7 linked regions of the Homo sapiens genome follow. The protein of the gene in region 4 purifies or fractionates together with the protein of the main gene of each other region. This does not show direct contact. Each region holds a gene or a part of one and is shown on either strand. Other genes may lie near its edges.

Evidence for each region.
Region 1: the proteins of SMYD3 (region 4) and OSBPL5 purify together in Homo sapiens (co-immunoprecipitation; one large-scale study listed by IntAct). This does not show direct contact.
Region 2: the proteins of SMYD3 (region 4) and FAR1 purify together in Homo sapiens (co-immunoprecipitation; one large-scale study listed by IntAct). This does not show direct contact.
Region 3: the proteins of SMYD3 (region 4) and MAGED4B purify together in Homo sapiens (affinity purification with mass spectrometry, with the first as the bait; one large-scale study listed by BioGRID). This does not show direct contact.
Region 5: the proteins of SMYD3 (region 4) and UBE2R2 purify together in Homo sapiens (affinity purification with western blotting, with the first as the bait; one study listed by BioGRID). This does not show direct contact.
Region 6: the proteins of SMYD3 (region 4) and AMY1A purify together in Homo sapiens (affinity purification with mass spectrometry, with the first as the bait; one large-scale study listed by BioGRID). This does not show direct contact.
Region 7: the proteins of SMYD3 (region 4) and ALDH3A2 purify together in Homo sapiens (affinity purification with mass spectrometry; one large-scale study listed by BioGRID and IntAct). This does not show direct contact.

What each region holds. Positions count from the first base shown.
Region 1 is NC_000011.10:3,086,607-3,089,458, forward strand, and holds the end of OSBPL5 (oxysterol-binding protein-related protein 5), read right to left. Parts: intron 1,738-2,852; coding exon 1,599-1,737; 3' UTR 501-1,598; downstream 1-500. UniProt on the Homo sapiens protein: Lipid transporter involved in lipid countertransport between the endoplasmic reticulum and the plasma membrane: specifically exchanges phosphatidylserine with phosphatidylinositol 4-phosphate (PI4P), delivering phosphatidylserine to the plasma membrane in exchange for PI4P, which is degraded by the SAC1/SACM1L phosphatase in the endoplasmic reticulum.
Region 2 is NC_000011.10:13,710,168-13,713,667, reverse strand, and holds part of FAR1 (fatty acyl-CoA reductase 1), read right to left. Parts: intron 2,976-3,500; coding exon 2,798-2,975; intron 1,905-2,797; coding exon 1,860-1,904; intron 1,741-1,859; coding exon 1,622-1,740; coding exon of another isoform or gene 1,613-1,621; intron 703-1,612; coding exon 635-702; intron 1-634. UniProt on the Homo sapiens protein: Catalyzes the reduction of saturated and unsaturated C16 or C18 fatty acyl-CoA to fatty alcohols. It plays an essential role in the production of ether lipids/plasmalogens which synthesis requires fatty alcohols.
Region 3 is NC_000023.11:52,061,327-52,063,755, reverse strand, and holds the end of MAGED4B (melanoma-associated antigen D4), read left to right. Parts: intron 1-5; coding exon of another isoform or gene 6-53; intron 54-282; exon of another isoform or gene 283-409; intron 410-654; coding exon 655-769; intron 770-1,091; coding exon 1,092-1,522; coding exon of another isoform or gene 1,523-1,526; exon of another isoform or gene 1,527-1,534; intron 1,535-1,717; coding exon 1,718-1,727; 3' UTR 1,728-1,929; downstream 1,930-2,429. UniProt on the Homo sapiens protein: May enhance ubiquitin ligase activity of RING-type zinc finger-containing E3 ubiquitin-protein ligases. Proposed to act through recruitment and/or stabilization of the Ubl-conjugating enzyme (E2) at the E3:substrate complex.
Region 4 is NC_000001.11:245,853,280-245,856,779, forward strand, and holds part of SMYD3 (histone-lysine N-methyltransferase SMYD3), read right to left. Parts: intron 1-3,500. UniProt on the Homo sapiens protein: Histone methyltransferase. Specifically methylates 'Lys-4' of histone H3, inducing di- and tri-methylation, but not monomethylation. Also methylates 'Lys-5' of histone H4.
Region 5 is NC_000009.12:33,897,160-33,900,659, reverse strand, and holds part of UBE2R2 (ubiquitin-conjugating enzyme E2 R2), read right to left. Parts: intron 487-3,500; coding exon 389-486; intron 1-388. UniProt on the Homo sapiens protein: E2 ubiquitin-conjugating enzyme that accepts ubiquitin from an E1 ubiquitin-activating protein, and catalyzes its covalent attachment to other proteins by an E3 ubiquitin-protein ligase complex.
Region 6 is NC_000001.11:103,654,474-103,658,559, reverse strand, and holds the start of AMY1A (alpha-amylase 1A precursor), read right to left. Parts: upstream 2,801-4,086; 5' UTR 2,632-2,800; intron 2,276-2,631; 5' UTR 2,230-2,275; coding exon 2,062-2,229; intron 1,717-2,061; coding exon 1,570-1,716; intron 767-1,569; coding exon 569-766; intron 121-568; coding exon 1-120. UniProt on the Homo sapiens protein: Calcium-binding enzyme that initiates starch digestion in the oral cavity.
Region 7 is NC_000017.11:19,662,251-19,665,750, forward strand, and holds part of ALDH3A2 (aldehyde dehydrogenase family 3 member A2), read left to right. Parts: intron 1-1,082; coding exon 1,083-1,249; intron 1,250-2,697; coding exon 2,698-2,797; intron 2,798-3,500.

The sequences.
Region 1 (2,852 bases), on a different chromosome or scaffold from region 4:
CCCTTTCATCACCCTTGTCCTCTGGTTGCTGTGAGGGGTGGGCTGCAGTCTCCCTCTGCTGTCACTTGAGGCCTGTGGTCAGGTGCCCCCACCCCGCCTTCAGGGGCACCCTGAGCAGGCCCACTCACTGGCCTTGGTGTCTGAGTACCAGGGGTGGTGGCCACAGTGGAACCGAAGCAAGGGGCAGCGGGCCAGGTGGTCCAGCCAGGGGGGGTCCCCTTCAGTAACTGGCAGCATTGGCCTCAGGGGCTGTGCCAATGCCCCCCAGCAGCCTCTGAGGTGCCTGGAGTGCCTGTGGGCAGTGTCACTCTGTGTCCCCCACTGGCTCATTGGGTGATGGGACGCCAGCCTCCCAGCATTTGCTCCACAGGGCGGGCAGGCTGCCCACAGCTCCCTGTGAACTCTGCACCCTCCTCCCTCCCGGGCCCCTCCACCCAGCCCCACACAGCTCCATGCTGGCCTTGAGTCTTCCTGGGAAGCCCTCCTCTCGTTTCCAGAAGTCCCGCAAGAAGAGAACACGTATGTGTCTGTTTATTTCAAGGTGTGGAACACAGACACATCCCCAGATGGGGGAGGAGGGGAGACAAGGACACGGGTACAAAAACTGGAAACAAAGCCACCCGCTACAGCTCAGACGGCACCGCCACGATGTGGTTTAAGGCTCTGTACGTATATATATGTGTAGAGGCTCACACACGCGCACACGCACACGCAGAGCGGCACTGACACGGGGACTGAGGCCAGACGTGAAGGCTGACTGCAGCTCGCAGCCCACCTAAAATATTGCAATTATGTTTATTAAAAAAGTGTAAAATGGGAAGACTGTGCATCGGTCTGAGTAAAGTGGCGAACTTGAGCCTCCCCGGCCTGGGTGCGGGGCCAGCTAAGCCACACCCCTGCGCCCCCCACACCCCTGCACACACCTGCACCCACAACCACCTCCACCTGCGTGTGCCCCCACCAGAGCGAGCGTCCAGGTGTGGGGGTGGGGTGGTTCCAGGACCTGCCTCTGTGGGGCTCCCATCCAAACAGCACAGCGTGGAATAAAAAACCAAAATGCCTTCCCCAGAGTGGCCCTAACCTGTCCCTGGCACCCACCAGTGGCCCCACCAGGGTGGTCCCGGCAATGTGGACAGGGTCTCCGGAAGGCAGGCCTATGCATCTGTGTGTGGGGGGACTCCTGGGCCACTCGGGGCTCCTCCAAACCTGCCCACTCACTGCTGCTGGGGTGTGACTGTCCAGGGCCCCCACAGGCCCTCCCACCCTAAATCCATCCATCCCCCATGGCAAGTGGAGGCCGGACAGGGGGTGACACGGCAAGATGGCCAGGAGTGCGTCGCACAGCAGAAGCTGCATTTGGCTTTAGCATTAAGGCCAGCGCTGGGCGGAAGGCCCTGCAGAGAGGCCAGTGCCCCTGAGAGGGGCCCAGCACACCTGGGCCCGCAGCGCCTTGTGGCCCCGGGTCCCTCCTGCGCCTGGACTCCCCGTCACAGTGGCTGTGCTTGCCGGGCCTCTCTGCCTCCATGGAGCAGGCTTAAAGTGCTGGGTGCCTGGGAGGGAGGGCTCAGGACCGGCCAGGAGCTCTGCCCTCAGGGCTCCTATTTGAGGATGTGGTTAATGAACAGCTGACACGCCAGGAACACGCAGAGCAGGAACCAGGATCGGGGGCTCTGCAGGAGGCCTGGGGTCGGTGCCTGTGCTGCCCGTGCCGTGGAGCTCAGCATGGCCGAGAGGTGCCTGCAAGGACAGGCGACAGATCGTGGGGGCTGTGCCAATGCCAGCAAGTCCCCCTCCCACAAGCCAGGACAGTGCCCTGGGTACTTGACCAGGTGCTGGACACAGGGCCGAGGTGGAGATGGGATGGCCCTCCAGGGGCAACAGAGCGGGTGGGGGTGGAAAGCTTGTTAGTGGGAGGGCCCCACAGCACCATGGCTATACTGGGATTCCCTGGGCACATTCAGGGCAGAGGAGGGTCAGGGATTGGGGAGTCAGCCTTTTACATCCTCCCTCCCACCCCTGTGGTTATGGCTGAGTCATGCCTCTGCCACCTTCATATGTTGGAGTCCTAACCCCTTGCACCTTAGATAAGACTGTATTTGGAGATGGGGTCCTTAAAGAGGTATTTATTTAAATGGAGACCATTAGGGTGGGCCCTGGTCCCATGGGACTGGTGTCCTTATATGAAGAAGAGATGAAGACACAGACACAGCGAGAAGCTGGCGTCTGCCAGGCAGGAGAGAGGTCTCGGGATAAACCAGCCCTGTGGCACCGAGATCTTGGACTCCAGCCTCCGGGACCGCGAGGGAGTAGACGCGCTGTCCGAGCCCCTTGCCGGCAGTACTCTGCTGTGGAGGCCCTGGCCCTGAGCTGGAGTACTTTGCCGTGGAGGACCTGGCCTCTGAGGCGGTATCCAGTTTGCTGCAGAAGCTTCTGGCTGAGTCCTGGCCACCTGCCTGACAGCTGACCTGCTTCTGGGGAGCCAGGCCTCCCTGCTTCTCTGCCCACACAGCCTCACCAGGGAGCACCTTCTGGAAATGCTTACACAGGGACAATGACAGTTCCCCAAGGCTCTTGAGCCTCACAGAGCCCGGGCCTGTGCCCTGGCTGCATTTCACCCTGGGGTACTGCTATCAAGCCCACTTTACAGAGGGGAGGCTGAGGTGTGACAGCCAAGGTCCCACAGCCAGTGAGACCCTCAGCCTGGCTCAGAGTCAGGAGCTTTGGACCCGAGAGGGACCCTGTGCTCTGCTCCTCATTGGTGGGATCTGCTGACAGGAAGGGGCCATGTGGCCCTGGTGGCCTGCACCTGCCAGCTCTCGGCCACTCCCATTTGCTCCTTCCCCAGCCATTCC
Region 2 (3,500 bases), on a different chromosome or scaffold from region 4:
CCTATCACTAAATCAATGCCAAAAAAATTTTACTTTAAATTTGAACTCATCAACCAACAATTTAAAATTGACTCAATTTCAATGGGTTTTAACTATTCCTATTTAAGTTATGCTATTCCTATAGAACTAGGAACATGTATATCTGCTGTGAATCTGTGAATTTAAATAGATTAATACAGGTTAATAGAAAATATTCTGGCAAACTGTATCCTACTTCCTAACTCCTTCATTTATTACTCTGGGTACCACTTGATATACCACCTCTTGTAAGAAGTGATACTGCCTATGGATAGGCAACATCAAGACTGAGGGTGCTCACAAGGGAGAAAAAAAGCACTGTTCCCATGCCATAGGTATCTACGAGGGCTACTGCAGATGGCAGGAGAAAAACAGCAAGGCTTAGACAAGGGTAGGGTGGGTGGGTAAGAATAGACAGCAGTATATTTTTAAATTTGTGAAACATTATTAAGGACCACAAGGTAGTATTGGTAGATAATACTTCTAAGACGACAATTAAGAACAAATTGGTAACTCAGTGGCCTTAATGCCTCATAGGTATTCTAACATTAAAACTTCAGGGAACTTGGTTCTTTAAGATTTATTCTAACATTCAAAAACACAGGTAAAATCATACCAACTTCACCCCAGTGGAAAGGATTAGTGCTGCCTGTTGTACAATTATACACCATGATGTTTCTTGGTCTGCAAAGACAAAGATGAAACCAATTAATCATAATAAGAGGCCAAACATATCCAATCTAAGTCCTACATAGTATTCAAGAAGACATGAGGATGATGGGCACCTTTTCTATACTATTTTTTTTTAATTATCCTTAAAGGATTAGTTTTTACTTTAATGACTATTTACAACTACCCTTTCTTCTTCCCCTACCAAAAATAATAACTTATTTTAAAAAATACAGACTTTTTTCTTTCACATTTTTCCTCCTTATATTAGCAGGAATGTCTATTTTTAAACACGAGGAAAACAACAAATGACCTCAGCTCTTCTTGTCTCATTTTCAGAGGATCTAGCTGAAAAAAAATTATGGACTAAGTTTCCTTTTGCCAGAAACAACATATTCATATAATCCTATCTCTCTTTTTTTAGGACAGAAAATACTGATTATCAAAAATAAGGGTAGTTTACTACCTAGAAAAAAAAAGTTATTGGGAAGTTTAAAGTTTAAGTGTTACCTGTAAATGCTACTATTATTTTTTAAAGGAAAGATGTTCATGGGCTGATTAAAGCTGCTCTGGTGTACCATGTTTAATATATGTAAACCATATTCTGTGAATTTCAGCTCTTTATATATTCAACAAGTTTTAGTTTGGATTAAAAAATCATGCTTAGGGGAGGGTATTTTTTTTTTTTTCATTTTTAAGTGAACTTGTCTATCCTGTAAGTAATACATGAGCATTAACATTAATTCTTCATTACTACTGATGGGAGCACTTGCTATTGTCTGTGATAATACCAACTCTTGGAGTTGGCAGTGATACAGCCTAAATATTGGTATGGCAATATCTGGATAGAGGGATTAATTAACATTACTCAAAAGCTATGTCTTCCCTTTTCAGTTACTATATATTTAATAAGCGACATTGTCACCTCATATACCTATTAACTCCGGAATACCAGGCTGCCGCAAGACTCATGTTGACAACTACATCTACAGGAACAAGATCTGCAAGGGCATTGTTGGAGGCACGTATTGTTCGAAGAATTCCTTTCCCTGCCTTTGTTGAAATTAAAAACAACACCTTAAGATATATAAGCCATAGTGTATATATATTTAAAGATATACAAAAAGCAGAAAAATGTATAGAATATTAAATAAATCAAAAGGTTTACTTACCGCAATAAAGAGACCACTTGGTCCATTAAAGTTATCAATCCATCCCTAATACCAAAAATTTTAAAAGGGAGAGAAGCTTAGAAACATTATGAAGCTAGAGATTTATTATTTGAACTCTACAACCCCAAATATATACTTGGTAGCTGTCTTCTAAAAACTAAAAAACAGACTAGATTCAGGCCAGACTATTTCTACCAGTCCCAAACAGAAGCAGTCTTCCTCTGGGATCAAAAATAATTGAGTAAAATCATTTTCAAAGGGCTACCTACTACTCTTCCATTAACTCTCTGCAAAGAGAAATTTATAAAAGAGGGTTTATATTGTTGAATATTTTTACAAAATTAAGCTTGTTCAAGTTTGATTTTATGCTATTTACTAATTCAATAGCCTGAGATTAGGGAAAATGGTAAATCCTCCTCAAAATTATGAATAAAACAGAGAAAAATAGAATAATTGTCAAAGCAACAACAGATGCTATCACTTACTACCATTACACAGACCTAGGTTTTGCCTAAATCAATTGACCCAACTGGTTTATATTTCTGCTTTCTCTCATTCCAGGAATTCACAAATACCCTAACACCCTGTACCTTTTTTACTTTGTGATCTACAGAGGAAGGGGTCTACCTCCTGGAAGGTCTGCCTCTTTTTGCTACTAAGAAACAAACCAAATCTCCTCTGACTTAAGAAAATGTCACAGCTTTTAATTTTCACTTAGGATTTTTTAAATGTTGATCTACATTTCTATATACCCAGCGTCACATTATAGAAATGAAAGTACCAATAAAATTAACTCTATGAACACAAAACAGCTTTGCCATGGTAATTCACCTTTAGTAAATAATACCTGTTCTTAAAGAACTGCCAGCTCTTTTTATACAGAGTTACAACTTAAAATTCTCAACTCCAGTTATTTATAAAGGTTTCTAACAACTTACTGGAAAAGGTTCTTTCCAACTGGCACCAACAATCGATGGCCTTACAATTGCCACATTTAGTTTTGCTCCTTCTTGTTGTACAACATATTCTGCCAATGCTTTTGTGTATATGTATGTATTAGGTCTGTCTCCTATCAATTTTGGCGTGATATCATTTACTAGGCCATCATCCATCCACCTGGTAAAGAAATTGCATACAAATATATTTCCAGATATTTTACTATAAAATAAAAAGCTACTTAATTGAACTTCGCACATTCAAACATATCTGCTGTTCTGACTCAAATCATTTGACAACTTTTACTGAAAAATGGAACTTAGTCTTATTTTTCTTAAACATCAACTACAGGTCCACAATCCCTTATCTGCAATTTCTGTATCCAAAAAGATCTGAAAACTAAGAGTTCTTTCATAAATCATACAGTGGATAGCAAAATCTGATCTACACTGACTTATGGTCTTTTTTTTGATACAACTTAAACATTCATATATTTTACATGTATTTGATCAGGGATACTAACCCAGATCAAGTTAAAGTTTTTTCTTATTACACAGTACATAAATTATATACCCTCTCTAAAGTCCAAATAAATTCCAAAATATATCTGAAACCTTCTGGAAGTTTGCAGGTTAGGAAATACAGATCTGTATATAACCACCTAATGAAGTAACATGTTAATTATATACAGTTATAATTAACATA
Region 3 (2,429 bases), on a different chromosome or scaffold from region 4:
CTAAGGAACCCGGAGCTCAGAGAGGAGACGCCTCTGAGCATGGCTCCCAGCTGGTAAGGGCCTCAGCCCAACTCTCCTGATTTTCAGGCCAGGGGCCACCCTCTCCCCGTCCCTGGAGGACTTGCCAACGCACAGGCGCGCATGCACACCAACAAAGGGTCAGGACTTGAGGAGGATGCCTGGAGCACGCTTCTCCTGGCTGACTGTTTCTTCCTCTCCAGTCGTTTCCTCTGGTGGGCCTCTCCAGGGCTCCGCCGGGGTGTGGCCAAGACCCTCGAGGTGGGGTGTGCTCAGAGCAGGGGGCCTGAAGAATGGCTCCTCTGTTTACAACACACCCAACAGGAAGCTGGGGTCATCGTGATGAGGGGCACAAACTTGTGGCCTCCCTACAGACAAATGCCCTACATGTGGACCCCCTGCACCTCCGCATGGCTTCCGGGGAGGACCAATGGCAAAAGGCTTTGAAGGCCTCACTTTTGCAGGCAGAAGTCCTGGGAGTGGGTTTGGGAATGAGTGAAGGGCTGGAGGGGCAGGACAGTCCTCTTCCAGGAGCTGAGCTGCGGCATCGGGTTGAGGAGGGGCCCCCTGGAACCCATCCGTTCAGCAACAGGTCTGCTTGGCTAGCAGCAAAGTTTACTTTCCTCTCATGCCAAGGTACCTGGAATACAAGAAGATCCCCAACAGCAACCCACCTGAGTATGAATTCCTCTGGGGCCTGCGAGCCCGCCATGAGACCAGCAAGATGAGGGTCCTGAGATTCATCGCCCAGGTAAGGGAGCGCCTCTGTTGGGTGCCCGGCACCGGGGGTGGTGCTCTCCACACCTTGCTTGTTTCTTGGTCGAGGCCTCCTTCCCATTACCCCGTATTCCAGTGAGGGTACCAAACACTCACAGAGGCACCTGAGCACCCTACACAAGGTCACAGATGGGGCAAAATCCCAGGTCTGGCACAGGAGAGTAGGAGCCCCCAATCCCTGTGGTCCTGATTTTTGCCATCATTGCACAAAGCACACGGGAGGGGGTGAGGCGGGCCGCGGGTGCTCAGCCAGTGTGGGGTAGCTCTGTGTCTATGCCTGCCCTTTTCCTCCTCAGAATCAGAACCGAGACCCCCGGGAATGGAAGGCTCATTTCTTGGAGGCTGTGGATGATGCTTTCAAGACAATGGATGTGGATATGGCCGAGGAACATGCCAGGGCCCAGATGAGGGCCCAGATGAATATCGGGGATGAAGCGCTGATTGGACGGTGGAGCTGGGATGACATACAAGTCGAGCTCCTGACCTGGGATGAGGACGGAGATTTTGGCGATGCCTGGGCCAGGATCCCCTTTGCTTTCTGGGCCAGATACCATCAGTACATTCTGAATAGCAACCGTGCCAACAGGAGGGCCACGTGGAGAGCTGGCGTCAGCAGTGGCACCAATGGAGGGGCCAGCACCAGCGTCCTAGATGGCCCCAGCACCAGCTCCACCATCCGGACCAGAAATGCTGCCAGAGCTGGCGCCAGCTTCTTCTCCTGGATCCAGTAAGAGTTTCGGTAGAGAAATGAGACTCTGCAGGAGGGCTGCGGAGGGGGGTGAGATGTCAGAGGGAGGGCCAGGGTGGGGGCGCTGGGGGCAACGGCAACAGCATGGACGGACACTTATTTTGTTACGTACACCCCTCCCTGGTTCGCGTGTGTCCACGGATGTTGTCACTTTGGTTTCTTGTGCTTTTATAGGCACCGTTGACGAACTGCAGCGATCTTACTGGCCAAGCCAGAGCGCCTCCTCTCAGATTCCTTCTCGACACAGCACCCTAGGCGGCTTCTTCCTGTCAGTCGGAGGTGGCATGCAAGATGAAGCTCTCTTTGCTCTTCCTGCTTTCATTTTGTGCTTTTCCTTGTGTTTTCATGTTTTGGGTATCAGTGTTACATTAAAGTTGCAAAATTAATTTGGATGTTTCTTCCTTTACCTGCACACCCATTGCTATACCTGGCCACGCTTGGGCTTGTAGCAAGGAAACTTCTTCAGGCTCTCTGGGGTAGGTGGGCCCCACCTCTGCCAAAAAGGCCCACAGGGACAGGTGGGATGCTGGGAGGTGCGGAGGTTGGTTACGCCTGAGTGCGTGAGCAGGAGTTTGGAGAGGCCCCAGTGCTCATCGTTATGTGATTTTCTACAAACCTTGCTCAGCAGCCCCAGGGACATGGCAAGAGTCGGGGCCACAGCAGGGGCGGGGTGGAAAATTGCAGCTTGGTGCCACTGCCCCTCCCGCCGAGGGACAGGGTCCAAGGCTCTCACCAGGACCCACCTCCCACACCCCCTCCTTGGAGATGATGTTCCGGAACCCTTGGCTCATCATCCACACAGTTCAGGACCCCGTCCTCGGTACAGAGTCTGACGGACAATGAGGTGGGCCCCGCAGTGATGTTCGCAGCCCTCCAGTGGGTAGAA
Region 4 (3,500 bases):
CCAGCCTGCCCTCTAGGAATGAGCTTCGTTGTCAGAGACAATGACACAAGCGTCCTCAGAGAGCAAGCTAACAACATCTGAGCAACAAGGAGAGATGCGGGATTGGGAGAGGCAGACCCAAAGCAAGCGCTGGGTATGTGACGGCATCGAACGCGCGCTCAGGTCCTCCCACTGTAATACGCACCTGGGATGCGGGGTCAGGAAGGCAGGCCCAAAGCAAGCGCTGGGCGCGTGGCTGCACCAAACGTGCGCTCAGGTCTTCCCACTATAACATGTACCCGGCAAGCTCTGCAGACTCCTGTACCAGAATGTCACACTGACAAAAACCCATGAAAGAACAACTGGAGTTCTTCAGAAAAGCCTGCTTGAAAACAGTAGAAGGTACTGTTATGAGGAAATCTCATAGTTTATCAACCTATCTTCCAAACCTTCTCAAAAAAAGGAGAAAAAAAAAATCCCCCGCAAAATTAAAAACGAATGGGGCTGCTATGTAATTAACTGACAATCTCTCAGTTACAAACCCCTGATTTGTAACCATGGCAGGTACACAAACTACCAGCTGCATTATACTTCCACTCTCTCCACCTGCCCCCATTTTTTCTGACAACAAAGCACAGAAAACTATCTGAGCTGAAATCTCACTCTTATCAGCTTTCTTCTCCTTGATGGAGATTTCATAGCCCACCTCCCTTGCCTCTTTCTCTGATCACAACTTAAGTCTCTTCATCATTCTTGTTCTTCTGCCTTTTTCCCAGGTACGTCACAAAAGTGTCATTCCCACCAGCACAAAAATACTATTTATGGACAACAAAATTAATATCAACAAATCTTACCCTATAATGTGGGCTTTGATGAAAGAAGAGATGAAGGCCCTAATACGTTTTGAAATGGCTTTAGATCAGAAACAACGGAAGTCAACGTCATCTCTTCTCATATTTTCTTGAGGAAAGAGTGACATTTTAGTGTGTGTGGTGGGGGAGGTACAATTTGGAAATGGTTATCCAAATTTAAAATAAATATAACTTTCACTTTAAGAGCAGGGGGACCTAACTTTTGATGTACCAAGTTACCACTTAGGAATTTCTCATGTGGATTTACCCTATGGATTCAATTAATCATGGCACTGTTTGACACAGTACACATAAATGGAAACGACAGAGATTGATCTAAAAATTATGGCATATCCATGAGATGAAATACTATGTATCTGTTAAAAAGAATAAGGTAGCTAATCTGGAGCTAATCTAGACAGATGTCTACACTCTCTTGTAAAGTGAAAAAAGTTACAGAACATGGGCTAGGGAGTTATCCTTTTCTCTCTCTCTCTCTCTTTTTCCCGCACACTAAGGAGGACCTTTGGCTTGGCTTCCCTTCCTTTTCTCTAATCCCCACTCCTCCATACACCACCTCAGCAGGCATATTTAAAAGACCTATTGGAAATGAGTCTTTCCCCCAGCAAGACAAGCAGGAAAAACGCAGAAGTGCAGGAGAAAGTGGAAGAGCCCACGTGAACAGTTCTGAAGGGAAGAGAGTTGAGAGTAACTGGGAAAGCAGAATAAAAGGAATGGGGGAAGCAGGGCTTTAAAAAAACATTCTGTGTATTATGATGGAACCATTGTTCATGTTTTCTGGCGAAGGTTAGGATTACTGTTTACTTTCAATCCTCTGACACCATGCTAAGACGGAGGTCTATCTGGCTCTGGAATATATTCAGACCGGCCACTCTCACACGGAACATTTCCAGAAGGAAACTTTTAGCCATGTTTATCTTTAAGGAGTGGGACAACAGTTTGAAGATGAGGCTGATTTTTACCTTTCTGTCCTCTTAAATTGTCCTTCCCTACAAGCATATGTTAATCTCGCAACAGAAATGAACAGAACGGGCGAATGTCCTGAAAGTCCTCTTCAAAGCCGGAAACACCCTCTATATCTCCTTATCACTCTCTAGTTCCGAAAGAAAAGTCAAATTTAATTAATATTCGACGCACAAAAATTTTAAAACAATGTGCTCAATTTTGTATTTTTCTCTCCGTTTTTAGGGGCTGGGGGGGGAATTTATAGCCCATACAGTGGTGCTATCAAAGGCTGAGTAGACTTTCATGGGTTAGTCTGGAGACATCACCATAATCTGTAACCATCTTTAATAGGAAAATGCATCCCAAGTTCTGAACTACTAATTGGCGAATTAACATTAGACTAAGTTAAACTTTTAAATAAAATTTATGAAGTATTTTAAAATTATCTTCATTCTACTTCCTGTTTACAATGCTAAGGGACAGATGAGTTTCCATATTAGTCACATATATATGCCGATACTATCAGAAGACATACTATGGGCTAATACTAAACATTATACATTTTGTTGTATGTGATTTCTAACTTGTTTTATGAAACATGAAGGATGTAATGTTGAGTTGCGTCATAAAAACTGAGTAAAATCTATTGAGTAAAAATAAATGAGAGTAGCAAGAAGGGAGCTGAAGGCCATAATTTGGATTAAAATGGAATAGCAGCACTTTCTCCTCTAAGGTCAGCAATTAAAATTTAGCCAAGGTCAGGAGTGACAAAATCATCAAGAAAGACTTGACCTCCATCTAGTTGTTGCAAACAATATATTAACATTGTAAAACTGTTACAGCAGATGGCAATGCAATCATCCCTTGGTAACTCATGCCTAGCTAACTGTCTGTGTCCTTGGCTAAAGGTGAGCAAAAGGCCCACCTCCTGCGTCTGCAGGGAGCCGATGCGGGGGGCTGAGAGCACTCAGTGTGAATTCCCTCATGCACATGTGAGAGGTGAAAACCACTGCCAACTTCTCCATTCCTGCCTTTGTTCCAAAATTGCTAACAGGGTTGCAGGGTACCTGACCTATTTGCATACATTCCTTATTTTTACCTCTGCCTGAGCTAAAGGGGAAAAAGGCAAAGTATGACAACATCTAACCTGCCCATTTCTCTCAACTTTGTTGGTTCTGGTTTATTTATAGCCTTTTCCTCAACTACAGCTTTAAAAGCAAATGATTCGTACCTCACTCATGTGAAGTGGATCAATGCAGATTGGATTTCTTGAAATACCACCAAAAAGCAACTCAACACACGCCAGGGAAGAGAAACCAAGGGAGGCTTGGAAATTTGTCACCCAGCATAAGAACACAGCACACACTTAAAGAGATTGTGACCTGCCAAACACCATGTAAATATAACCAAACGTTTCCCAAACATAATGGACTGTATTCTGGTGGAGGACTTGGCCTCACTTACAAGAAAGGCCTCTTTGTTTAAAGTCAGTCAAACTGCCAGCTACTTAAGGTGTAAGTTAGTGCCTCAAAGAGGCCCTGGTAGATGTGGGGAAGAGAAGGTTGCAAAATACGTGCAGAACAGACACCCGTGTAGGTGTGTGGTCTTCTTTATGGATGTGGTGGACCCATGTAAAGTTTCTGTGCTTAAGAGTGGCCCGAGCAGGGCAGCCTGAGTGTCGAAAGGGAGGATGAGGCAGAAGAA
Region 5 (3,500 bases), on a different chromosome or scaffold from region 4:
AAAACAAAGGAAATGTGAAAGCGTATGGACTTCAGTTACTTATAATGAATTAACATTGTTTATTAACTGCAACCAATGAATGACACTAATGTTAGGTGGTAATAAAGAACCAGAGTAGAACTAGGATAAGTTAAGAGTAGGGATTCAGGCTTGAAAATCTATTCCTAAGTGAACATAGGGAAATGAGAATCATATACATTATTGTTTAGTAAATACAGCTCTTCAAAATGACGCATACATATTTCTTAAAGCTCTAGCTAAAGACAAAGAAACTGAATATAAGAAAGATGATTTTTTACATGTTAAAAGACAATACATAATTTTATTTTACTAGGAGCAAAGACAATAAGGAGATTAAGAATAACTCCAAAACCAGATTCCTCCTTACCTCACATTCTGAGTAGGATTCCACCTTTCAGAAGGCAGTTCTCCACTCTGTGGGTCATCTACAGGCGGATGAAGAATCGAAATGCATACATCTCCATTCTACAAGACACAAACATTACATTCAGTAAATACTCAAAAAGTGATGTACAAAAAGGGACATCGGTTCTAAAGTTTCCTTTATTCCTAGAAACTGTTTCTTCATCAAAGGAGAAAACAATTCTGCTTTTTATGTTCAACATCAAAGATAAATAATAATTAAGCATTTTAAAAGTATTTATTTTGACCAATCTCCAAGGTATATTTTCTAGTGAGAAGACTTACTATTCCTATAGAACAATCCTGATGAAACAAACGATCCCTATGTTTACTTAGGAACATTAAAATATAATATTTATTTCGACCAATCTCCAAGGTATATTTTCTAGTGAGAAGACTTACTATTCCTATAGTACAATCCTGATAAAAAATTGACTGGGGCTGGGCGCGGTGTCTCACGCCTGTAATCCTAGCACTTGGGAGGCCAAGGCGGGTGGACCACCTGAGGTCAGGAGTTTGAGACCAGCATGGCGAAACCCCATCTCTACCAAAAATACAAAAATTGGCTGGGCGCGGTGGCTCACGCCTGTAATCCCAGCACTTTGGGAGACCAAGGTGGGCAGATCACAAGGTCAGGAGTTCGAGACCAGCCTGAACAACATGGTGAAACCCCGTCTCTACTAAAAATACAAAAATTAGCCGGGCGTGGTAGCACTCCCCTGTAATCCCAGCTACTCAGGAGGCTGGGGCAGGAGAATCGCTTGAACCTGGGAGGTGGGGGTTGCAGGGAGCCAAGATCGCGCCAATGCACTCCATCCTGGGCAACAGAGGGAGACTCCGTCTCAAAAAAACAAAAACAAAAGACAAAAATTAGCCGGGCGTGGTGGCACGCGCCTGTAATCCCAGCTACTCAGGAGGCTGAGGCAGGAGAATCGCTTGAACCCGGGAGGCGGAGGTTGCAGTGAGCCAAGATAGTGCTCCGGCCTGGGCAACACAATGAGACTCCATCTTAAAAAAAAAAAGACAAACATAATAAATCAAGACTCAATTGTCTTAGAAGCAGCCAAATATATATCCCTTTGTTTTCAGATATATCTGTGTACCTAGAGTACATAAAAAGGAAGAAAAAATATCTAACCTTGCTTAATATCTACTCAGATAGATGCTATGTCAATAACCATGACTTATATAAACCAAAAATATGCCTCGCAGCAAATGTTAACATCCTCAAGGTATGGTTAGAATGACTTCCCACTATGGCTATTATATTTTGCTTCATAAACTTAACACAACTTAATCCACAAGTACATTTAGGTTAATTCATACACATATGGATTGCCCACCATGTGCAATACAGAACACAATTCAATAGAAAAGATAAAGTTAGGTAAAATACAGTGACTTATCTCTTGGACTTAGCCTAACATGGAAGGTAAGATTTATTTATTTATTTAACTTCTTTCTGTCTTTAGAGATGGGAGTCTCACTATGTTACCTAGGCTGTAGTGCAGTGATTATGCATAAGACAACCATGGTGCACTGCAGCCACTAACTCCTGGCCTCAAGTGATCCTCACACCTCAGTAGTCCCATAGCTGGGACTCTAGGGTGTGCTACCACACACGACTTAAGATTTATATTTTTAAAAAACTGGAGGTATAACTATATAAAGTGCAAAAATCTTACATATACAACCCAAATTTAGACACATAGAAACTATATGAATATATATGTAACCATTATCAATATAAAATATTTTTAAAATAAAATTAATACAAAATATTATATTCTAACACACTGCCTTATGGTTAGATACCATAAGGCATGTAAAAAGTTACTACAGATAAAAGAAGAGAGAGGCCAGGCATGGTGGCTCACATCTGTAATCCCAGCACTTTGGGAGGCTGAGGCAGGCAGAGCACAAGGTCAAGAGTTTAAGACCAGCCTGGCCAGTATGATGAAACCCCATCTCTACTAAAAATACAAAAATTAACTGGGCGTGGTGGCACCTGTAATCGCAGCTACTCAGGAGGCTGAGGCAGGAGAATCCCTTGAACCCGGGAGGCAGAGGTTACAGTGAGCTGAGATCACGCCACTGCACTCCAGCCTGGGCGGCAGAGCGAGACTCCATCTCAAAACAAAAACAAAAAACAAAAAGAAGAGAGCCGGGCGTGGTGGCTCACGCCTGTAACCTCAGCACTTTGGGAAGCCAAGGCGGGCAGATCACCTGAGGTCAGGAGTTCGAGACCAGCCTGACTAACATGGAGAAAACCCATCTCTACTAAAAATACAAAATTAGCCAGGCGTGGTGGTGCATGCCTGTAATCCTAGCTACTCGAGAGGCTGAGGCAGGAGAATCACTTGAACCTGGGAGGTGGAGGTTGTGGTGAACCGAGATTGTGCCATTGCACTCCAGCTTGGGCAACAAGACCAAAACTCCATCTCAAAAAAAAAAAAAAAAAGAAAAAAGAAAAGAGAAACTTGGTATATTTGGGCAGTGAATGCGTGGGAGGTGGGGTGGAAGATAAAAGGCTTTGTTGTTGAGGAAGCTTTGAGATGAGCTTTCCTTTAATAATAACAATTTAAACAACCTATGGGAAATGTAGAAATGAGTTTTTCTGGCCAGGTGCAGTGGCTCACGCCTGTAATCCCAGCACTTTGGGAGGCCGAGGCAGGCAGATCACTTGAGGTCAGGAGTTCGAGACCAGCCTGACCAATATGATGAAACCCCATCTCTACTAAAAATACAAAAATTAGCCGGGCGTGGTGGCACGCACCTGTAATCCCAGCTACTCGGGAGGCTGAGACAGGAGAATCACTTGAACCCGGGAGGCGGAGGTTGCGGTGAGCCGAGATCACACCATTGTACTCCAGCCTGGGCAACAAAAGCGAAACTCTTGTCTCCAAAAAAAAAAAAGAGTTTTTCTGAATCCCAGCACTTTGGGAGGCCGAGGCCAGCGGATCACGAGGTCAGGAGATTGAGACCATCCTGGCTAACATGGTGAAACCCCGTCTCTACTAAAAATACAAAAAATTAGCCGGGCGTGGTGGCAGACGCCTGTAGTCCCAGCTACTCAG
Region 6 (4,086 bases), about 140 Mb from region 4:
AATTCTGAACCCTGCAACACCAATGTCAATGAGATGGTTCATATATTCGGCAATCTTAGAACGCACATAATCCTTCCCCAGTGCAAGATCGAGAAGACCAGACAGACGACAATCTCTGACCTGTTGAGGTAAGAATGTTATGATTGATTAATAAAACCTCACTTTTCGCCTGAGAATCCATTTGATTATTCATTTATTCCATGATTCCTCAAGAGATATTCTATGGTGACTTCCTTGCATTGGACACTGGGGATGCTCACATTCTACTATAGATGTATCTTGGAAATATTTTCTAATAGAAAATAGAGAACTTAGGAAATAAAGTCGATGAGTTTTTCAATTGGTTGGGAGCTTTTTAAAAGTGGACAAATGTGTATTGATTAAAAATCTTAAATCAATATTTAAAGGTTTTCAAATATGGATTTGAGTTTCTTAAAGTAGTCAAACTTGTTAACCTCTGTCCCTAAGAGATCTAAATTCATATTTACAACGAAGTTCAATTAGCTACATGTCTACAACAAAAGGCATATATCACTCCTTATTCAGATCACTCTCGTAAAAAAATTACCTGAGTAGCATCATTATAGTTCTCGATATCTCCACTTCCAGTTTTACATTTACCATCATTAAAATCCCATCCAGAATATGGGACTGCTGGAAAGTCCCTACTTCCAGGGTTGAAGTAACTTCCACAGGTACTGCTTGTTCCTGCACTCACAGCATTACCACACATATGATTAATTACAGCATCCACATAAATACGAACCTAGAAAACAAAGTTTCTAATTCAGTGTGACTTACAGAGAGGCAGAAATTTAAAGAATTATTGATTAAATTTATAGTGTGCTAATAAAATTCCAAAATATTTCATACCTTATAACTATTTTCCTACAAGATCAAAAATCAACTGTGAAAGGAAAGTAATGTGAACTAAACACCTACATTCATTCCAGACACTTGGCCAAATATATATAGGAATGATAAACTGAGAGAACCGGAAACTACCATAAATAGGAGGAAAGGCAAAAAGCCCATTTTGGGGAGACACAACTCAGATGAGACTGAAAAGGTTACTATTTGGGAAATTTCAGTGGGTCACCAGGAGAAAGCCTGTACTCTCTACTAAGCTTGGAAGACAAATAAGGTAGCTATTCATCTCAAATTCTGCTCCTCATTAAATAGATAAGCTACCTATTCACCACAAAAAAAACCCAAGAATTAGGAATGGAGACACAAGTCATCTAAAAATGAGAGCAAATATTGTAACTGGAATTAAAATTCCTCACCAGAAAATCCTTCCAGGAAATATGGATAGTTATAGCGGTTAAAATTTGATGTTTTGCTTCAGAAGTAAACTCTGCTATAAACTTTAACTTATCTCTTTAGTAGAGAGCACATATACAAATATTTTCAAAAATTGAACATAAGGTGACAGTTACTTTTGAGTTTTAAAGTATGAAGTAAAATTAAAACTGATATGGAAAACTTTCTGCTCAAAAGGAGCAAGAAAGAAGAGACAGAAATCATTTTCCTATCTGTTATTTTTAAAGGAAACTAGAATTCACTTACCCCAACATTGTTGCATCTAGTCACCATGTTTCTAAATTCATCTTCATTTCCAGATCTTGTGCATAATTTATAGCTAACTGGTTGGTATCTTTCCCACCAAGGTCTGAAAGGGTTGTGAATGGCAACATTTTCATTTGGTGGAGAGACCTACAAATTAAACAGTCTTCATAAGTACCAAATTCTGTCTTACTGTATATCATTGAATGTTCTAGAATCTAATCAATAATACAAAAGATTCTTGAATCTTGGTATAGGCAGCTATCTCTTGAAAATATTAACAGCACATCGGAGGGCTCTTGTTGAAGAAAGATTATATCAGAAACAAAATATACAGTTGCAAAGAATACTACATTGTTTTTTCCTCAGAAAATTCTTTTACTTAGAATACTTACCTGTGAAGTAAAATGTTGCCCAAGCTTCACGTAGAAGATCAGAATAGTGTTTACTACAAGCACAGTGAATTCTGCAATTGATACTATGAATCATACCCACCTGAACCCCTCCAAATCCCTTGGGAGCTAAATATCGCTCACATTCAAGAGCAATATCAACCCATCGCCATTCAAACAGATGAACAATAGATGTTCGTCCTTGTTGTGTATTTGAGGAATACTGAGCCCAGCAGAACCCAATGGTGAAAAGCAACCAAAAGAGCTTCATTTTGCTTTGAAGTTGTCAGTGTCCTTTCCAGAAACTATTTATATTCCTGTAAGAAGCACATTTTACAATGTAAATAGTAGCATGAATAAATACTTGAGGGCAAACTGTTTATTCATAATCTGAAAAGGATTATCAATAATAATCCTAACTGGTGAAGAACATCAAAAAGTCTCTCATGGAAATCATCTCAATGACCTCTTAGACATTAATGTTTCTTTTCTTTTCTTTTTTTTTTTTTTTTGCATATGGTAGCACTTTTATTTTTCCTTACACAATGACATGTTGCTGTGGCCTAATGTTCTCACATAACAGCAGAAAACCAAAATTTGTTGTCAACTCTTAAAAGATCGAGAATTGCATACTAAAAAACTTTACATAAATTAAAAGGATGAATACATTTACCGGTATAAATGCGAACCGCTTCCAACTCAAGGCAAGTAACAGCCCACGGTGCTCTGGTAGATAACGTAAGCTAAGAAAGGAAACTGGGTCCTATGGCTTGGACTTTCCAACCCTGACAGACCGACAAGACGGAAACAACTGGTTCAGGAGCCCTTCCCAGCCTCTAGATAAATCTCAGAACACTCAGCCCTGACACATTAATACCCTGCACGGATCAGAGACTGCTGACCACACAGACTCACCAAGCCAGACTTGTCTTCCACAAGCACGTTTTTAGCCATGAAGTGACCAAGCCACGTGTACTAAACACTGACATCAAAGGTATGTACAGATACCAAGGGGAAGAGTTAACTTGAATGCCAGGCCAAAATCAGCAACAAGTTCTACAATCCAGTGCTGATATTGAGAAGAGAGAAAGACCCTGTCCTCTTGTTTTATATTGTTTTCTATTCAGTAAAAACAACAAGGAAGCAAAATCAAAGGCACAAAACCAGGCCTGGGCCTGGTTGGCCTAAACCCAGTAGTTACAAATCAACTTATGATTTAGAAGCCGATGTTATTCATAGATTCCAGACATTGTATAGAAGAACATTGTGAAACTCCCTTCCATATTCTGTTTCTCCCTGACCACGGGTGCATGTAGTCCTTGTCGCATATCCCTGGCTTGTTCAAATCAATCACGACCCTTTCATGTGACATCTTTAGTGTTGTGTGCCCTTAAAAGGGACAGAAATTGTGCACTTGGGGAGCTCGGATTTTGAGACAGTAGCTATCCGATGCTCCCAGGTGAATAACACCCTTCCTTCTACAACTCGGTGTCTGAGAGTTTTGTCTGCCGCTTGTCCTGCTACATTTCTTGGTTCCCTGACCTGGAAGCAAGATAACTGATGGACGGCCGAGGCAGCTCCTTAGGCAGATTAGGCATGCCTTGTGGAGTAAGGCCGGGGCATCCCTCAGGCTGCCAGGGACTCTGGCCAGCCTGAGGGATGGGATCCAAAGAGCGCTCCCAGGTAGGAAATGGCCCCGGTTGAACGCCTCGCCAGAGCAGTGATCCCCGCGGAGGATTAACACAGTGGCTGAACACCAGGAAGGAACTGGCACTTGGAGTCCAGACATCTGAAACTTAGTAAGACAAGTCTTTTCAACTTGCCCCACTCCACCTGAGCGGAAGCTTGGCCTGATCGCTCATGGTGTGCCTGCACCCATATCAATTTCCATATAGAGATTCCTAGTTACAGCTAGTTTTAGATCCTCTACAGTGGTAAAAGGACAGGCAGCAGCAGTAGTAGTAGCAAAGGGACATTTATTTCAGGAAAGTTCTCGCTCCACCGGCCAAGAGAAGCCAGCACCTAAAGTTCTGTTTGACCCAGAGCTCGAGGACTCAAGGCAGGAGATGGCACCAACAGTGCCCTCAACCCCTTATCCAGTGGGGAGGCCCCCTTCTCCTGAGCCCAC
Region 7 (3,500 bases), on a different chromosome or scaffold from region 4:
GATCATCTTACCTGAGCATGGCTATGCAGAGGAAGTAGACACTCAGCCCAAATTGTTTCTCTGACCTGAGGAAGATGTGGGCAATGGATTTGGAGTGGCAGTTTATATACCCCCTGGAAGTGGTGCTGCAAGAAGCTGTCCCCAGCCACATTGCCAAGATAACCTATTAGAAACTGGGGGTAAAGGAAAAGTGCCAACTTGTTATTGTCAGATGACTTCTCTTTTGGTTGACGAGCCAGTTTCTTACTTACAGCATCTTTTGGAGTACTGCTAGTTGGTGACTTACATTGGCAGCAGATGCTGGGACACTTTGTCTAGCCTCCCCAGCATCTGTTTCACCCTCCTTTCTTGTGCCTCTTCCCCATGGTAGATGGAACAGTGGACTAAGGTTTAGGGAATTTTGACCATTTAAGTCTGTTTTCTTAATCTGTCTAACAGAGTTATAATAAAGGTTAATGAGATCATATATATGAAAGCACTCGAGTTAAGAAAAATAGTATTGATTTGATTCACAGAGGAGCTGTCTTTGCTCCTAGAAAGACCTGTCCATTCGAGACCAGCCTGACCCAACATGGAGAAACCTCATCTCTACTAAAAATACAAAACTAGCCGGGCGTGGTGGTGCATGCCTGTAATCCCAGCTACTCGGGAGGCTGAGACAGGAGAATCACTTGAACTCCAGAGGCGGAGGTTGCAGTGAGCCGAGATGGCACCATTGCACTCCAGCCTGGGCAACAAGGGCGAAACTCCATCTCAAAAAAAAAACCTGTCCACAGAAAAATGTTAAGTATAATCTACAGTTAAATACATGCATGGCTGTGAACAGGGTTCAATGTGAAAAAGATATATTTGAGTGTGTATCGTTCCCTTGGTTTGCACAAGTATCCGCAGGGTTGTGATTCACAGGCTTTGGAGACATTGAGTATGTGCACAGTTCATCCACGTGCTCAGGATTTTTCAATAGATATGACTTGGGTGGGAGAGGGAAAGGCATGGATAAGTGACCCAATGAAAGAGATGTAATATGAGAGTTGTGCATTTTTGTCTAATAAGCATTTTCATTTTGTTTATTTTCTTTTTAGCCCCAACAGTACTTACCGATGTTGATCCTAAAACCAAGGTGATGCAAGAAGAAATTTTTGGACCAATTCTTCCAATAGTGCCTGTGAAAAATGTAGATGAGGCCATAAATTTCATAAATGAACGTGAAAAGCCTCTGGCTCTTTATGTATTTTCGCATAACCATAAGGTAAGCTTTAGAGAGAACAGCTAGTTAGCATAAGCAACTGTCAAGAGTCATGTTCCTTCTTTGCTGTAAAACAATGCAAAAAACAATGTGAAACAATGATGGTTTCTTTTGTGTCATGTCAGAGTCCATCCACTAAGTGAGGTTGTGTTCCGAGGTTGCTGTCTTGGTTAATGAGACTCTGGGGTTATCACAGCATCCATTCCCCTCCTCCCTCGGGTTAGATCTGAGTCTGCAGGGTTGAGTGTCACAAGGTTTTTGATTCACAAACATCTCCTGTATAATTGGAAGACTTATATGTGCCAGCATTAAATGCTTTTCTGATGTTAATCCACAGGGCATTGCTGAATAACAGCCTGCACAAAATGGCATTCACACCCACTGTGTGGGACAAAGACCCCGACACTGTCACATAAATGGTTGTGATATGATGGATTTTAGTTTCTAACATGACGCTAGCTTCTTGTTAGAGTGGTGGAACTGCATCACCTGGTTGAGCAGTTCTGCCACTTTCTGCATGGCTCACTCATTCATGTCACTAGGTGACCAGCCGCTACTAAGAGACCATGGCCCAAATGTTTTCTGGAGAGCTTCTGATGGTAATGTATAGATAGTCATGTGACAGCTTTTGGAGCTTGTGAGACTATTGAGATACAGATAGCTACAGGTATTTGAAGTGAGACCAAATGTGTGGGGCTCAGTAAAGACTGGGTTATTAACAAAACAATGGTTTGACATTTAAAACCATGGATAATGTGGGCAGGAAGGAACCCTGAAGCCGAAAGTAGGCTGGCCAGGGTATAAGTCAGGTGTGGAGCACTTCCCAGCAGTGGGTCACCCGAGGTCACTATAGTCCAGACTTGACGTTTGCCATGAACAATTGTCAAGGGCTTGCTGGCACCCAAGGGTAAATGACGTTTACTAGTCAAGTGTTCTTGTGCTTTTCTGAGCCTTAGGCCAAACAACCATTTATTTCTTAAAAAATAGGATGCTAAATCTAAAGTCTTAAATATTTTTACATTTCATAAAGACTAAATAATACCTATTAATCATGTGTTATAATTTAAAGCAGAGATAAGAAAGAAATAATAACAGTTTTTAAAGCTGGAATATAGTCTAAGCTGTCCCCTTTTAAAGAGTCTTTTGCTGCTGTGTTGGGGAGTACAACTCCAGGTTGTGGCTGAGTAGGCCCAGAGGTTTGGAGCTGCCTCCTTTTGTGCACTAGATGTGTGTCTGAGAAGTTGGGTATCAGTCACTTTGCTAAATTAACCAGTTGAGATTGTTTGTCTATCTGGCATGGTGTCCCCAAACTCGAGAATTTTCACTGACACAAAGCCAGAATGTGCATGCTTTGAGCACATAACTGAGCACACAGCCCTCTGTGTGGTGGGGCCATGAGTGTTCCCTAAGGGGCAACTTCACTGACCTGGACACCTTTGGTCTGTCCTCAGCTCATCAAACGGATGATTGATGAGACATCCAGTGGAGGTGTCACAGGCAATGACGTCATTATGCACTTCACGCTCAACTCTTTCCCATTTGGAGGAGTGGGTGAGTCTTATTTTCTCCTGCTTGTAGTAGATATTTCAAAAGCACCACCATTTCATGAGTGGATTGTATGGGCTGCTGAAATAGCCAGCTGTTGCGTACCCTGATTGTCCTCTCCTGAGGGAGACCTTTTCCTGGTCACCCAGTTGACTGGTTTTCCTGCTTCCCCACCCACCCCTCCAGCATAGGGCAAATGTCTTGTCACTCTCTTTCTGTCAGCAGCACTGACTGACCACAGCTTTGTTCACTTCGTTGATTTTGTTATCCTGCCACATTTAGGAGATTTGGGAACCAAGAATCAGGTCTCAAATTAATTAAGAAGATCTCTCTTCGTGTGTGTGTGTGTGTGTGTGTGTGTGTGTGTGGTGTGTGTGTTTAATGAAGTAGCAAATGAAAGGTTCGGAATACCAGGGACAGAAGGTAGAGGGGTTTTCTAATGTGCCTTTGTTTTCTGCTCAGTTCTTACCTGCATTGTTCCCCAGCCCTTTGTTGGGAGGAGCAGCCTCTCCTTGAATTGTTTTGTGATTTGAGTAAAACGGGACTCCCCCTGTTCTAGAGAGGATGGGCAGAAAGAAATTCATTCCAAGTGAAGCTTTGTGGACATAGCCTGATCCTTGCTTTTCCCTTTAGAACATGACCTGCCTGCCTCTCCCACATGTGAGATGACTGACTCAGCTTTTTATTTCTCCTTTGGGACCTAGGCTAG